Linked DNA regions of Homo sapiens: region 2 is linked to region 1. Evidence: fine-mapped expression QTL. A gene starts in region 1. The other region holds a variant in brackets. All regions are shown on one strand. Distances are between the middles of the regions. Region 1 holds the start of OMG (oligodendrocyte myelin glycoprotein). Region 2 overlaps NF1 (neurofibromin 1).

What was found. PIP is the estimated chance that this variant, and not a neighbour inherited with it, causes the effect.
Region 2: its variant is the best candidate, but not a certain one, in a credible set for the expression of OMG in blood mononuclear cells (TOPMed, PIP 0.53).

Annotation. Positions count from the first base shown.
Region 1 is chr17:31,295,481-31,298,288 of GRCh38, forward strand. OMG (oligodendrocyte myelin glycoprotein) reads right to left here and starts at 1,759. Exons shown (of 2, transcript NM_002544.5): 1 at 1,676-1,759; 2 at 1-857. The coding sequence starts at 851. The region is part of intron 36 of NF1 (neurofibromin 1); the gene reads left to right.
Region 2 is chr17:31,155,339-31,158,146 of GRCh38, forward strand. NF1 (neurofibromin 1) reads left to right here. Exons shown (of 58, transcript NM_001042492.3): 2 at 645-788. Among named protein-coding and RNA genes, the nearest start is that of MIR4733HG, 61 kb to the left of the region's middle. The variant AAATG/A (reference allele first, on the strand shown) is at 1,649.

The DNA of each region.
Region 1 (2,808 bases):
TGCATCCCACTTACAGTGAATAAGCTTGAGGTAAATCCAGAAGGTGTGGGATACATGTTATGTTCCTTTAAAGATGATATTTGGGTAGAACATGGAGTCCCTATCACATGGGCTTTTGTTTCCATCATCCACTTCAGTAAGTAAGTAATGTTTTGTTTGTGGTCACATGACCACCTGTTATTGTAAAGGGTTATCTCTTGCAACTGAAAGAGTTGGTCAAAAGATTGGTCTGGAATGAATGTGAACTTATTGTTGTGCAGGTAAAGATGTGTGAGATTTGTCAGGTTTATTAATGTACCTGGAAGAATTTGTGTCAAAGAATTATTAGACAGGTCCACGATATGTAGTTTGGAGGGCATGTTGGTTGGAACTGTCCAAAGTTTGTTACTACTGAGGTTGAGAACCTCGAGACTTCTTAGTGTATTTTTAATGAGGACAACCTTTTCCAGCATGTTCTTAGAAACATCCAGATATTTAAGATTCCACTGATAAGCAGTATCAGATTTGTCAAGAAGTTTAATGTTGTTGTTAGCAGCAGACATGTTCCACAGAGACCGAGGTAAGTGAGCAGGCAGGCTTTCAAGCCTGTTGTTTGAAATGTCCAGGGTCCTCAGATTGGTATATTGGGTTAACTGGTTATGCAGATCAGTAAAGTGGTTATAAGACAGGTTTAAATGTATAATATTCTCTTGCAGTCCAGATGGTAATGTAGACAAGTTTCTGCCTGAACAGTCCACATGCCTGTGCCTCTCTGTGCATATACATTGGAGAGGACAAATGCATAAAATACCAGGTGTGAGAAACAGAAGGATGAACAGGCAGAGAGACATTTTCAATATCTGATATTCCATCAAAGCCTAGAAACAAACAGATACACCCTTCTTTTAATATGCAAATACAGTTTAGGCATCTGCATGGGTCAGTTAGCATTAGGCAAAATTTTCAATAAACCTCGTTGTTGTCGAGTCCTTTTATAATTGTTCCAGTGATTAAACTAACAAAGCTCCCCTTCATTTATAGTCCAAATGCTTAATCCTTCAATTGGGCTATGTGGTAGAGAGAGACTCTCTCCCTACTCTCTCCTGCATTTTCTCCTTTATTTTCTCTCTCCCTCCCCCCTTTTCTAACCATATTCTTTCTTATTTATCTTTCTAGAGCCTTAATATGATAAAATAGCATTCTTTGCAAATAAATAGTTGCAGTTGTAGGCTATTACTATTTTTGATGATATGCTTTCTTACTCAGATGAGAAAAAATGGCTGTCGTGTCTTTTTTTTTTAATCTCTGCAGTAATGTAATTCAATGTGTGTATATAGGGTAGATTTTATTTAGATATTAAAGCAGTTCTTCGAAATTTTATCTGTATGTTTTTAGGATAAATATATCTTTGTAAAAAGCACTTGAAAAATCCAGACCAACACAGTACCTATAAACCTCACATTTTATAAAGTGATTTTTTTCTGTATATTTCAGTGCCCATTTTAAAGGAAAACAATATGTATATTTACAGAGTGACTGAATGTATAAAAAATATCCCTCAACTGACACTGCAGCAAATTTCTGGTGCATGCACTTGCTATTGAATATATATTTAATCCTAACGTTGACTTTTTCTTAAAAGAAAAAGGAAAAAGATTCCAAAGTCAGCCTTTTACTGATTTAAATAACATCTTACCGTGGTGTCGTCTTCAACATCAGCATCTCATTTTCTCTGGGAAACTTAAAGGTCGTCTTGTTCTGTAGAGTCGGAACTGTTTCTGGCTGTGGGCTGTGCTTGCCTGCTCAGCTGCATTGTGTTGCTGTGAGCTGAAGCTCTGCAACCACCTGATCAGTACCACATAGGAGGACTGCAGAGCTGTCGCTGGTGCTGACTCAAATTTATGGCAAGAGGTGCACACGCAACAAAATGGACAATTTTTTAAAAAATTTGTGGCATCAAGCGTACCTATATATCTGATTTGCTATAGGATGGGATACCTTATGCATGAGAGTTGGCCCTTACTCCTTTCTATGTATTTGTCTGAGATTGGGTTCCATATTTTAACATTTGCCTCATTAAGAATCTGTGAATTTTTAAAATACCTCTACTCTTTATCCTTTTTACATGTTGAAAATAAATTTGACCTTCCTCATGGATAGTTTTCTATGATATTAGTCCCACTATTTTTTAACTCCTGCCTTTTTATATTCCTTTCTAAAATTGTATAATTTTCATGTCACTTTTTTAATATTATAAAAAATCTGTTTTATGACTTTTATGTCTTCCCCCAACATGGTGATTATTATGTTTAATCAGCTTTTCAAATTTATCAACCACTTAAGTGTTCCGTCTTCCCTTTTAGGATGTATAGAAGTACTGAAATACGATTATTTTTTCTTTATCTTTCTGATACAATGATCATTTGACCAAGGCTACACACAAGCCAGGATACATTTGGAAATTAGCATCTTATACTTCAGATTATCAGTTCCTATGTAAAATAAACATGTTTTATTTTATATATTTGGAGTTAAAGTTTTTTTTCTTTATGCAACCTTGGGTGGTAAGTGGATATGAGTATTGTTTTTTCCAAAGACATTTTTGGTGCTGTATGAATGACCATTTATTTGATTTTATGTTTTAAGAATAGCAGTATCAATTTAGGTGATTTCAGAGTGTTGCACATTTCATCTTTCTGGGAAAGTAGTTTATAGTTTTAAAATTACATGAAATGATATAAAAGGAAAATTTTTCATCATGAGTTTTATAAAGTGAGATCAGATTTATGATAAATTTTGCTCCACTCTTCAGTGGACTGCTTGTGTAAA
Region 2 (2,808 bases), 140 kb before region 1:
AGAATATTTTTTCTCATGGGATTTGTCTGCTTGTGTTCTGTTATCCCTTCAATTGTGTAGCTGAGGGTGCTTATCTTACTGAGTGAGTCTTACTGTTTTTTCCCCAGGTTTTATAGTTTGTTCTTGCTTCTGAACAATCAGCAGTTGTTTGCCATTATTGACAAGAAGTCTAGGGCATAGATTTTCTTGATCTGTTTTTCTTTTAATGTTTGAGTTCAATGGATAAGGGAAACGGTTGTATGCATTTTATTGCAGACATTCTCTGAAATAATTTTTAGCCACAAGCAAATAGCTCTGTTTCTGTGAGTCATCATTTCTTCTTATATAGTGCTGGATAAAGAATTCTATTTTGTAGATAGAGATTTATGACTTCCAGAAAGAAAGCTGCAAAAATGGAAGTTTCCAAAGAATTTAAGATTTGCTATAATAAATGCTATCATATATTGGTGTTTGAGATGCAAATGTACATATCTGTGTATCATATATTGGAGGTTGATTGAAAATCGGAGTTTGAGATGCAAGTATAGGTATCTGTGGTTGATGCAGTTTTCCTAAAACGTCATGATTTTCAATGGCAAGTAAGTTATTTATGGTCGTTTTTAAGGATAAGCTGTTAACGTGTTTTTTTTTTCTTTTTTTTTCAGCTTCCAATAAAAACAGGACAGCAGAACACACATACCAAAGTCAGTACTGAGCACAACAAGGAATGTCTAATCAATATTTCCAAATACAAGTTTTCTTTGGTTATAAGCGGCCTCACTACTATTTTAAAGAATGTTAACAATATGGTGAGTATTTGGGTTACTGTGTTTTGGGGAATTTGCTTTCTTTTCTTTTTGATTAAAAAGTTTAGAACAGCATATTTTGAAGTATGGAAAGTGATTTTCTGTGGACTTTGGATATAACCATTAATCTTATTTTGTTTACGAGCACAGATAACCTTTTAATTTTATTTTGTCAAATTTTTAATCAGCTGGGTTTTAGATTCAGTGAGCACAAGTAACTGTAACTTTCATTTTAATTTATTATTTCCCTTAGAAACATCTCCTATCTTTTGTGACCATGTCTCCTTTTCCAGTATGTTTCTTGAATTAGGATTTCATAGAGCTTTTGTGGCCTACACGAATTGACCACAGTAATCCATTACACATATTTTTCTTTAGCATCTTGTTTGAATTTACTTACGGTTGTCCCAGCCCTAAGTAGATGATAAAATATGATCTCATAGTCCTAAAATGTGGATTGATTTTTTTATGAAGATATGTGTTTTTTCTTCCTTCTGTAACCTGTGACAGATTCTGTAGTAGTTACCCTGTTGTTGAAACAGTTTTTCTCAAATACCAGTTTCATCAAATAATTCCACTGTTAAAAGCTCATAATTTCTTTCTTCTTCCCATTTTCTAAAATCGATTGACGTTTCCTAGACTTCAGAGTACTCCAGCTGTCCTCCCTCTGTACCTTTGAACATATAACATCTTTTGTCTTTCTCAAGTGATCCCTTCCTCTCTCTAAATTCCTATTTAACATCTCCATTCTAAGCTGTTTCAAACTAACATACTCAGTTCATGGCAACTGATCTGGATTTTTCTTGATTAACTCTGAACTCTCTGCTGGTGTTTAGCATTTATTTATTTATTTATGAATGAAT[AAATG/A]AATGAATGAATGAATGACAGGGTCTCATTCTGTCACCCAGGCTGGAGTGCAGTGGCGCAATCTCGGCTTACTGTAACCTCCCCCTTCCCAGTTCAAGTGATTTTGCTGCCTCAGGCTCCCCAGTAGCTGGAATTACAGGCATGTGCCACCATGCTCGGCTAATTTTTTTGTATTTTTAGTAGAGACGAGGTTTCACTATTTTGGCCAGGCTGGTCTCAAACTCCTGACATTAGGTGATCCGCCTGCCTCGGCCTCCCAAAGTGCTGAGATTACAGGTGTGAGCCACCGCGCCCAGCCTGCATTTATAATCCCAGTTTGTATTTGTTTGTATTGAGTTGTGAAACAACTTCTGGTTATAGATTGTGAAGATTGTTCCCCCTTCCTTTTTTTTGAGATGGTCCTTAGGTTTATTAGATAATATTCTAGTATGACATTGAAAAGACATGAAGTTACCTTTTTGCCTTATTCCCATATTTTAGATAATTTTTCTCTTGTTCTATTTTATTTTTAACTGGCATACAATAATTGTACATGTTTATGGGTACATATTGATGTTTCAATACATATAATACATAGTGATCCCACTAGGGTAATTAGCATATCCATCATCTCAATATTTATCATTTCTTTGTGTTGGGAATATTGAATATTCTCTTGTTATTTGAAACTATATAATGTTAACTGTAGGCCAGGCATGGTGGCTCACGCCTGTAATCCCAGCACTTTGGGAGGCCAAGACGGGCGGATCACGAGGTCAGGAGATCAAGACCATCCTGTCTAACATGGTGAAACCCCGTCTCTACTAAAAAAAAAAAAAAAAAAAACTTAGCGGGGTGTGGCGGCATGTGCCTGTAGTCCCAGCTACTCAGGAGGCTGAGACAGGAGAATGGCGTGAACCCGGGAGGCGGAGCTTGTAGTGAGCCAGGATGCGCCACTGCACTCCAGCCTGGGTGACAGAGTGAGACTCCGTCTCAAAAAAAAAAAGTTAACTATATAATGTTAACATAGTCATTCTACAGTAGTACAGAACACTAAGTCTTATTCTTCCTATAAAGCTATATTTCTGTATCCTTTAACAAATCTCTACCCACCCCGATTCTCCCTACCCGACCCTTCTTACCTCTAGTGTCCTCTCTTCTACTTTTTACTCTTTTT